2 separate regions of the Homo sapiens genome follow, and region 1 is linked to region 2. The links come from fine-mapping of genetic effects on gene expression. A gene starts in region 2. The other region holds a variant in brackets. All regions are shown on one strand. Distances are from middle to middle.

Region 1 (5,376 bases), 84 kb before region 2:
AAAATTATGCATCTAGTAGGAATGACTCTTAGGAATGATCTCTAGACTAGGTTGCTGGTTTACTGTTAATTATGATACTAATTACCTGTATGCTACCATCTCACACTCTGGAGTTGGCCATTTCAAAATAGCTGAATGCTGGAAGACAAAAGACACACAAGAAAGGATTACAATATTTATTTAGCACTGCATTATTTACTACATTATGAGGCTTTGATAGTTTAACCACTATGAATGTCTTTTGTTGGTATGGAATGACCCTACCAAATCATCCAGCAGAGAATTCCTCTGGCTACGACTCAATGTCCAAGCTTGTTCACCTCTGGATATTAAATGGGCAATAATTCCAGCTGCAAAGTAACTGACTTCCACTTCCACACTGTGTAGGAGACTACTGATGTGGTCTATAAAATCTTTCCACATTAATTCAGAATGTAATTCTTGTACTTCAGCTATATTGTTCTGGAAAAAAAAAAGAAAATATAAAAATTAATGTAATATGTATAGTAAATGGTTAAGATAACTGTTTTTAGGCCCTGGATAACAGGCAATTCAGGAAGGTGAAAGAAAAGTATTTCCCTGAGAGAAAGTATTCAAATGAGGGCAGTTTACAGACTGCAATGAAGGTAAGAGTAAGCCAAAGACAAAGTAGCAGTTTTGTTGAAACAGAGATCATAGTTTAGGGTGGTCAAGCAGCAAAACTCTGTAGAACAGAGTGCTGGAAAGGACAAAGCTCCACACTCAGAGACAGAGCACACATGACCTGTACCCCAAATCTCTGGCTCAGTAATGACAAGGGTGAAACTCCAGGAGGCTAGGGAAAGAACTACCAGAAAGTAGTATATGAATAAATCCTAAAGTCACACAGGGATAGGAGTAGTTCACATTTCCACTAGCCAGACTCAAGAGACCTTATAATAAGCAAAGTATTTGATAGTAGTAGGGCTAAATTATATATGAACCGTAGGGTAAAGTCTGATAAGACGCCACTCTAACAAAACAAATAAATAGGGCTGGGTGTGGTGGCTCATACCTGAGAGGTTGGGAGTTTAAGACAAGCCTGGCCAACATGGAGAAAGCCCGTCTCTACTAAATACACAAAAATTAGCCAGGTGTGGTGGTGCATGCCTGTAATCTCAGCTACTTGGGAGGCTGAGGCACGAGAGTCACCTAAACCCGGGAGGCAGAGGTTACAGTGAGCTGAGATCCCACCACTGCACTCCAGCCTGGGAGACAGAGTGAGATGCCATCTCAAAACAAACAAACAAACAAACAAACAAACAAACCCAAAACAGCCAAGCATGGTGGTTCATGCCTGTAATCCCATCACTTTGGGAGGCTGAGGCAGGCAGATCACCTGAGGTCAGGAGTTCGAGACCAGCCTGGCCAACATGGAGAAACCCCATCTCTACTAAAAAAATAGAAAAATTAGCTGGGCGTGGTGTCATGTGCCTGTAATCCCAGCTACTCGGGAGGCTGAGGCAGGAGAATTGCTTGAACCTGGGAGGTGGAGGCTGCAGTGAGTGGAAATCGTATCACTGCACTCCAGCCTGGGCAACAGAGCGAGACTCCGTCTCACAAAGAAATAATAATAAAAATAAAATAAAATAAAATAACACATAAACAAGCTTCAAGAAGAGCAACTTGATCTGCAAGTAACTGCATGCAAGAACAAAGTATAAGACTCTTTAGAGAAAAATAATAAAACCTAGCAATCACCAAGTTACATTTCACAAGGACCGGCATCCAATAAAAAAATTACCAGGCATACAAAGGGGCAGAAAAATATGATTCATAACCAGGAGAAAAATCAATCCAAAGAAATGGACTAAAAAATAACAGAGATAATAGAATTAGCAGACAAGGACTTAAAGCAGCTATTATAAATATTATAAATATAATTCAGACATAAACATGAAGGGAGAAAATGAAGACATAAGAAAGACCTAAATGTAAATTTTTTTTTTTTTAGATGGAGTCTCGCTCTCGCCCAGGCTGGAGTGCAGTGGCGCGATCTCAGCTCACTGCAAGCTCCGCCTCCCAGGTTCACACCATTCTCCCGCCTCAGCCTCCCGGGTACCTGGGGCTACAGGCAACCGCTACCATGCCTGGCTAATTTTTTTGTATTTTTAGTAGAGACGGGGTTTCACCATGTTAGCCAGGATGGTCTCAATTTCCTGACCTCGTGATCCGCCCGCCTTGGCCTCCCAAAGTGCTGGGATTACAGGCATGCGCCACCGCGCCTGGCCAACCTAAATGTAAATTATAGAAATTAAAAAAAAAACAAAACTAAGTATCTGAAAAGCAAAATATATTGGATGAGATTAACAGCAGATGAGATGCTTCCGGAAAAACAATCAGTGGACTAAACAACAGAGAAATAAAAAGCATCCATGGCAGGGCATGCTGATTTACACCTGTAATCCCAGCACAGGAGGTTGAGGTGGGAGGATCACTTCAGGCCAGGAGTTCAAAACCAACCTGGGCAACATAGGGAGACCCTGTCTCTATTCACACACACAAAAAGAAATAGAAACCATCCAAATCAAAGCACAGAAGAAAAAATCAGACTGGGGAAAAAAGCCAATAGTGGAGTTCTGGGACCTGTGGGATAATGTCGAGAAGTCTAACATGCTTATAACTGAAGTCATAGAAGAAGCAGAGATTAGAGAGGGTATGAAAAAAGGTATTTGCAGAAATAATGGCCAAATTTTTGCAAAATGTGATAAAAATTATAAACCCAAAGATTCAACAGAAAAAAATTGTCCACTTAGACTTCAATAGCCAACCAAAAATTTATCATTCAAAAAATCAAAGCAAAATAAAAAACTTTGTTAGGTAAACAACACGTGAGTGAGAAGTCATTGCTAGCACACCTATAGGATAATAAATGTAAGAAAAGAATAGAATGAGAAATGTGAGTAAATATGAAAGATAAATTTCTCT[T/CTCT]TTTTTTTTTTTTTTTTTGAGACGGAGCCTTGCTCGGTCGCTCAGGCTGGAGTGCAATGGCAGGATCTCAGCTCACTGCAACTTCCGCCTCCTTGATTCAAGTGATTCTCCTGCCTCAGCCTCTGAGTAGTTGGGATTACAGGCAGCCACCACCATGGCCAGCTAATTTTTATATTTTTAGTAGATACAGGGTTTCGCCATGTTGGCCAGGCTGGTCTTGAACTCCTGACCTCAGGTGATCCGCCCGCCTTGGCCTCCTAAAGTGTTGGGATTACAGGTGTGAGCCACCCTGCCCAGCCAATTTCTTGTTTTTAAATTGAGGAATGATGAGCACTCCTGCTTCTGGCCAAGGTGGAGTAAAAACAGATTTACACATCTGCCTGAAACAACTAAAAAATCCAAATAAATATGGAAAAACAGTTCTCAAGATACTGGTCACAAGCAATAAAGGACAGTGACTCTCAGTGTCCTTTACTGGATGGAAAACAAAGTGAGCTATTGCCTTTAAAGTTTCCAGGCTGTAGCACAGGGATACAGACCTGAAGCAGAGCTCAGTAGACTGAATGGAGTAGGAGATGAGGTGAACAGTCCACAGAGATGAAGGTAACTCACAGGACAGAACACCAGGGAGAAGGGAATTTGCACATAAAGTGAGTCCAGCCATCTGTAGAGTCCCACTCTATTCAGCAGAGTAATGATAATAAAATGAACACAAGGAAGCTGAGGGCAGGAAAATAACCATCTAAAGAGTTAGAGAAAAGTGCATAGTGCTCACAGAGGGCCAGGAATAGTGCATGTTCTCACATATTCTCATCACCCAGTATGGAAAAACCTTTCATTCACAAGGCACTGGGTAGAGTCCTCAGGAAGGTCTTGTTTCAGTAGCAGAGAATAATTAGCCATAGCCTGACCACTGCTCTGGAACCTCCTAATAAATCATAAAAAGCAAGTGATCAAAGTGATCAAAATGTTTAAAAGTAAGTTAACTGCATCCCAGAACAAAGTTCAAGAATATTCATAGAAAAACAAAAATATTCAGCAACCAAGAAGGTAAAAATTCACAATGTCTGGCATTCAATCAAAAACTACCAAGCAGAATGGGAGAAAACATTTGCAAGACATATATCTGATAAGGGATTAATATCCAGAATATATAGAGAACTCCTAAAATACAACAACAAAAACACAAACAACCCAATTTAAAAATGGGCAAAGGAATTGAATAGATATTTCTCCGAAGAAGACATACAAATGGCCAATAAACCCATACAAATATACTCAACACCACTTATCATCAGAGAAATGCAAACAAAAACTACAAGATACTGTCTCAGACCCATTAGAATGGCTACTATTAAAAAAAAAGGAAAATAACAAGCGGTGAGAATGTGGAGAAATCGGAACCCTTGGACACTGTTGGTGGGAATGTAAAACAGTAGAGCTGTTGTGGTAAACAGTATGGTAGTTTCTCAAAATTTAAAAATAGAATTATCATGATACAGTAATTCTATTTCTGGAACTATACCCCATAAAATTCAAAGTAGAGTCTTAAAAGAGATATTTGTGGCCGGGCGCGGTGGCTCACACCTGTAATCCAGCACTTTGGGAGGCAGAGGCAAGCGGATCACCTGTATGATTCCACTTACATGAAGTAGTTAAGGAGTTAAAATCATAGAGACAGAAAATAGAATGGTGGTTACCAGGGCCTGCAGAATGGGGGAATGGAATAGTATTGTTTAATGGTTACAGACGTTCAGTTTTACAAGATGAAAACAGTTACAGAGATGAGTGGTAGTGATGGTTCTACAACATTATAAAAGTATTTAATACCACTGAACAATACACTTAAAAATGGTTAAGATGGTAAATTTTACGTTGTTTACCACAATTTAAAACATAATAAATTTTTTAAAAAGTAAATTAAAACCTAAGCATGCCAAGTATCAGGAAAACATAATTCATAATGAGGAGAATAATCACTTGAAATTGACCCTGAACTGACACAGATACTAAATAAAACTAGCCGATTAGGATATTAAAAGAGTTATTAAAATTTTATTTCATATATTCAAAAAGTAGTAACACGGAAGATACAAAAAACACCTAAATTGAACTTGTAGAGATGAAAATGACAATGTCTAAGATGAAAAAATCTACCAGATGGCATTGTAGCAGATTAGATATTGCAGATGAAAAAAAATATTGAACTGAAGGCATAGCAAGGGAAACTATCCAAACTGAAACACACAGAATACAAAAGAACAAAAACATTAAAGAGCATCAGTAACATGTGGGACAATGTCAAGCAGCTTAACATGTGCAAATTAGCGTCTCCAAAGGACTCCAATATGGGGAAAAGGGCTGCAAAATTTATTTTAGGGAAATGGGCAGGTCACAGTGGCTTACTCCTGTAAGCCCAGCACTTTGGGA
Region 2 (5,376 bases):
CTTAAACATCTCAACTATTCAAACACAACCTAATTAACATTTAACAAATATAAAATACAAAGCTTTATAATAATCATTCATTCAACTGTATTTATTATCTACAAAAATATTGCACGAGAAAGTGGCCTCTACTGATAATTCCTAGCTCAAAATAAGCTAATATTCTGCCTTCTCCTCACCTCTCCCATACATACACTGTTACTCTGTGTGTATATGTTTTAACAAGCAAGGAAAAATCAAGTTAATTAGATGCAAAGTTTAAAACATAATCATGCCTAATATGTCTGCTGTGGTCTGAATTCTGTCTCCCTAAATTCATATGTTGGAATCCTAACCCCCAAGGTAATGGTATGAGGAGGTGGGGCCTTTGGGAGGTGATTAGATCACCAGTTAGTGCCCACATGAATGGGATTAGTGCCCTTATAAAAGAGACTCCAGAGAGCTGCCTGGCCCCTGCCACCATGTGTGAAAACAGTGAAAAGGTGACTTAGGAAGAGCCCTCACGAGACACTGAATCCACTGGGGAACTGATTTTGGACTTCCCAGCCTTCCAAACTCTGAGAAATAAATTTCTGTTGCTGACAAGCTACCTAGTTTATGGTATTTTGTTACAGTAGATTGAATGGGCTAAGACAGTATCTTGCTAGCCTCATTTCCTACTACACATCTCCATTCTTGCATCCTTCCATGCTATATAAGGGTAATACTACTTCCTACAATGCATCCTAATTCCTTCCTACTTTCTTTCTTAAAAAAAAAAAAATCCCTGTGAGGGGATCCTTTCTACTTGCTACTCACATTCACAATGAGGCATTCTTCCCCTTCCCAAAATGATCTATATAAATCCTATTCAACTTTCAGGCCCAGCTCAAAGGACACTTTTAGATCCTAAATACCTCAAAGGGGAGTTCATAACTCCTCCCTCTCATACATTCATTCTCAATGGAAGGGCCCACACTTTCAAAAATCTAGCAGTGTAATGTCTTAGGTAGGATAGCTCTTTATTCTGAAAAGTATATCATCATACCTCACTCAATATCATTTTTGCATCAAAATTAAGATTCTCTGCCCAGGCGTGATGGCTCATGCCTGTAATTCTAGCACTTTGGGAGGCCAAGGTGGGAGGATGGCTTGAATCCAGGAGGTCAAGACCAGACTGGGCAACACAGCAAGACTCCATTTCTACAAAAAGTTTTACAAATTAGCGGGGCACGGTAGTCCGTGCCTGTGGTACCAGCTACTTGTGAGGCTGAGGTGGGAAGATCACTTGACCTCAGGAGTTCAAGGTTGCAAAGAGCCATGATTGTGCCACTGCATTCCAGCCTGGGCCACAGAGCAAGATCGTCTCCAAACAACAATTCTCAAACTCACTCTTTCTGTGTAGTCCACTAGTTACCTCAAATTTCAGTTTAAGTTTATATTAGTCAGGTGGGAAATGAGACCATAAAGTGAATCATTCAAGCACCTAGCTGGCCTGGGCACTTGGAATAATAAGTAAGGAACGGTTGCTACCTAGAACTTACATTCCACAGGGAGAAACAGGTTAGCATACAACAACAGTGTGTGAAAGTGAAGGAGACAAACACAGGAAAATGACAGACTAAAAATGCAGGAGTGAGTTAGGGAAAATTCATAGATTAAATAATTTTATAGTATATTACTTTTCTAAAAAACTGCTGGAGGGAAAAAAAGAAACTGACTAACCTCCTAGGGGAACATAATTATCAGGACTTAGTTTTGCCTTATTCCTCCCAGAGACCAAAATTTAGCTTGTTGCATATGATGGAGCAATGTTTTCAATAAATGTACAGCAAACCACTTATAACCCAACTCAATGAAAAAACCAACTGAAGCCTCAACCTATTTTCAGACAGAAAGAAAATTTGCAAATATAAGGTTCTCCCAACTAAAGGCAGACAGGGCAAAACAAATGAACTCTTTAGAAGGTTTAAAGAGACTGTCACAACCTGCCAACCTGATTGTCAGTCCTCAAATGCCCTTGGTCTCTGCCTCCAAATGAAAACAAATCATTTGTTTTTAGTAATAATAGCCAAGCTTGTAAATAAGTATTTTTAAACTTCTCCAACTGCACCTCCACATTAAAAGATGCTCAAAATAAAAAAAATTCAAAACATTTTTTAGCTATTTCTGTCAAAAGACTAGATCTCTCCTGAGGTCACAGTATGCATGCTGGCCCTCACTTCACTGCTCTGTAACACACCACCACTTCGATTTTGCAATGACACTAGGTGAATAGGCTTCCAGGATCTCTTCAATGCCTCCAAAAACGAAAAGGAAGAAGCAAACCTATAAATCCCTATCTGCCCGCCCTACAGCTCCCGGGAAGCAACAGTCCTCAAATTGTTCCTGCTTAGACCCCTGAAGCCCGTAGAAGGAAATGGGGACAGCTGCGACGGCGAACCGAGCGAGGACATCCGATAAGGGAAGAGGAAACGTGGATGGAAGAGGACGAAGGGGAGAAGGAACACGGAGAGAAGGGGGCAGTGGAGATAAAATGGTGAAGAGGGGTGAGAAGAGCAAGGAAGAGCAGCGAAAACTAGGGAGGAAAGGGGGGAAAGTAAAAATCACATAAGAGGAAAAAAGGCAAAATGATAGAGGAGAAAGAAAGGAAGGGTTAGGGTTAAAGGACAAGGAGTGGGCGACAAAGGGAATGCGAAAAAGGCTGTCACTGGGGGTGATAAAAAGGATGTCATCGGGGAGAAGGGAGATTCAGGGGGTGTCACCTAAAGGGGTTCACCGAAGCAGGTGAATGGGGAAGGAGGAGCTGAACACCGAGGGGGCGGTAACGAGGGAGAGAGGTAAAGGCAGGGAGCCCGAGGGGACACCAGAGACAGGGAGGGGCAAGACCGCAGGGGCCAGCGCGACGGGCGGGGGCTAGGGTGGCGGGCGGCTGCGGCTAGGGCAGGCCTTGCTCCCTCACCATGGCTGCGCCGGCCTGGTCCTCGGGCATGCAGCCTCCGTCCTGGGTGCGGCGGCGGGCCGGACCGGAGCCCGCCCCCAGGCTGAGCCGGCGCGGAGGCTCCAGGAGGCTCCGGCGAGCGGCGGCTCCGGGCTTGGCCCAGGCCTCGGCCTCTTTCCCTCAAGCTAGGAGCGTAGCAGTAGCAGCCGCAGCCGCAGCCGCAGCCGCAGCCCGAACCAGAGCGCAGACTCCGCCCCCGCGAGGACCCGCCCGGGCGCGCGAGCCCGCGCCTGGACCCGCCTCCGCTCTCAATGCGCAGACTCAGACGAGGGGGTCCCGCCCCCCCCAGCCCGACCTCCAGCTTCTCCCCCTCCCAGGCCCTTAAAGGAGCCACACACCCCCAAATCCTAGCATCCCTTCAAAATATGAAAAGCTTTAAATATTACATCATGACGAGAGATTAGAGCATCGCTCACTTCGGTCACCTATAGACTCCTCTGTCATTCACCATCATTCTCTAAGATTTGGGCTTCTGGTTCACTGTCATTCATTACTACTATTGTCATAACTCTTGGTTATTTCAAAATTCGCTTAATTCTTCCAATCCTCTGGCCTCTCAGATTCTTCTCTAGGGATCATTCTTGGCTCAGCCTCTCACTCTCATGCTCATACGAATAATTGTAACTTCTCTACAATCTCAATTTTAATCCTCTAACTCCCATTGCAACCTTCTTCCTTTCTTTCTTTCTTTCTTTCTTTCTTTTTTTTTTTTTTTTTTGAGATGGAGTTTCGCTCTTGTTGCCCAGGCTGGAGTGCAGTGGTGCGATCTTGGCTCACTGCAACCTCCACCTCCCGGGTTCAAGTGATTCTCCTGCCTTAGCCTCCCGAGTAGCTGGGATTACAAACACCCGGCACCACACCCGGCTAATTTTTGTATTTTTAGTAGAGAAGTGGCTTCACCATGTTGGCCAGGCTGGTCTCGAACTCCTGACCTCAGGTGATCCGCTTGCCTTGGCCTTCCAAAGTGCTGGGATTACAGGCGTGAGCCGCTGCGCCCGGCCACAACCTTCTTCCTTTCTAGCTCACTCTGTCTGATAATACTCCAACTCCAAAAACTTCAACTCCAAGACCCCAAATCCATTGATCCAACTACCTTTTCGCTATTCCTCCCCACGCTGGCCTTATGTACTCACTTTCTTCCTGAAACAGCTTAGATTCTATCGTCCGTCATGAAATGGAATCTAATAGAATCTAAGCTGTTTGGGGAAGAAAGTGAGTACATGAGGTACATGAAGTCGATTTCTTCAGTATTACCTTCATTTCTCTAGTCGTTCTCTGCTTTCTTTGTACTGACAGAACTCCAGCAATGGAGTGGGTGGAGAAAAAGCCAAAAGTGGTTGACTGACTCCCCGTAAATTTGAGATCATTATTCTCAAGAGGCCATAATGAGTGGCTACCCTACCACATTTCTCCAGTTTCACACACTCTCCCACCTTGCTACATAACTATTTCAAGTCTCCTGTCTCTTCAAACCTCCGACACTTCCTCCCTCATCTCATTTAGCTGATGATTTTGCTTCTAATTCACAAGAAAATCAAACAAACCAAAAAGAACATCTACAAGTTCCCAGCACCCACCATGACTTCCAACGAACCTGTAACTCTGCTTTGATGCTCTCTCTGCCTTCCTTTCCTTACTACAAGTTAATTATTTGTCTTTTAGCTAACATCAAATCCTCCTCAGTTCTCAAGCATCTGTGCTAAAAGACCCAGATTTTATCCCCAATCACAAAACTAAATTTCTGTAAAATACAATCAAAATTAATTACTAGAAAAAATTAAAATTTAAAAACAAGCATCCAAAATGCAAGCCCAGATTTTTTAAACCTGCTTAACCATTTTAAAGTGTACAGTTCAATGGTATTAAATACATTCACATTGTTGTGCAACCATCCCCATCAAGAAGCTCCAGAACTTTTTATTTTTTCTTTTATTTATTTATTTATTTATTTATTGAGACAAGTTCTTACCCTGTCACCCATCAGGAGTACAGTGGCACAATCACGGCTCACTCAGCCTCAAACTCCTGGGCTGAAGCGATCCTCCCACCTCAGCCTCCTAAGCAGCTAGAACTACAGGCACATACCACCACGCCTGGCTACCTTTTTTTTTTTTTTTTTTTGTAGAGACAAGGTCTCACTGTGTTGCCCAGGTTTGTCTCAAACTCCTAGGCTCAAGTAATCCTCCTGCCACAGACTTCTAAAGTGCTAGGATTACAGACGTGAGCCAATGTGCCAGGCCTCCAGAACTTTTTTATCTTGCAAAGCTGAAAGCTTGTACTCATTAAACAATAACTCCCCATTCCTAACTTCCCCCAATCCCTCGCCATCACTGTTCTGCTTTCTATCTCTATGAATTTGACTACTCTAGGCAGAATTTTTATTATTAAACCCAACA

Direction of the effects. Positions count from the first base shown, and alleles are read on the strand shown. Sizes are in standard deviations (SD) of each study's normalised expression.
As copies of T replace CTCT in region 1, the expression in monocytes after R848 of the gene that starts at base 3,172 in region 2 goes down (moderate effect, 0.41 SD a copy in Quach 2016).

Evidence for each region. PIP is the estimated chance that this variant, and not a neighbour inherited with it, causes the effect.
Region 1: its variant is fine-mapped to the expression of ZYG11B in monocytes after R848 (Quach 2016, PIP 0.95).

What each region holds. Positions count from the first base shown.
Region 1 is chr1:52,808,622-52,813,997 of GRCh38, reverse strand. It overlaps ZYG11B (zyg-11 family member B, cell cycle regulator), which reads right to left. Exons shown (of 14, transcript NM_024646.3): 11 at 265-462; 12 at 86-138. Among named protein-coding and RNA genes, the nearest start is that of ZYG11A, 31 kb to the left of the region's middle. The variant T/CTCT (reference allele first, on the strand shown) is at 2,947.
Region 2 is chr1:52,724,249-52,729,624 of GRCh38, reverse strand. It overlaps ZYG11B (zyg-11 family member B, cell cycle regulator), which reads right to left and starts at 3,172. Exons shown (of 14, transcript NM_024646.3): 1 at 2,942-3,172. The coding sequence starts at 2,971. RefSeq lists a silencer at 2,782-3,361.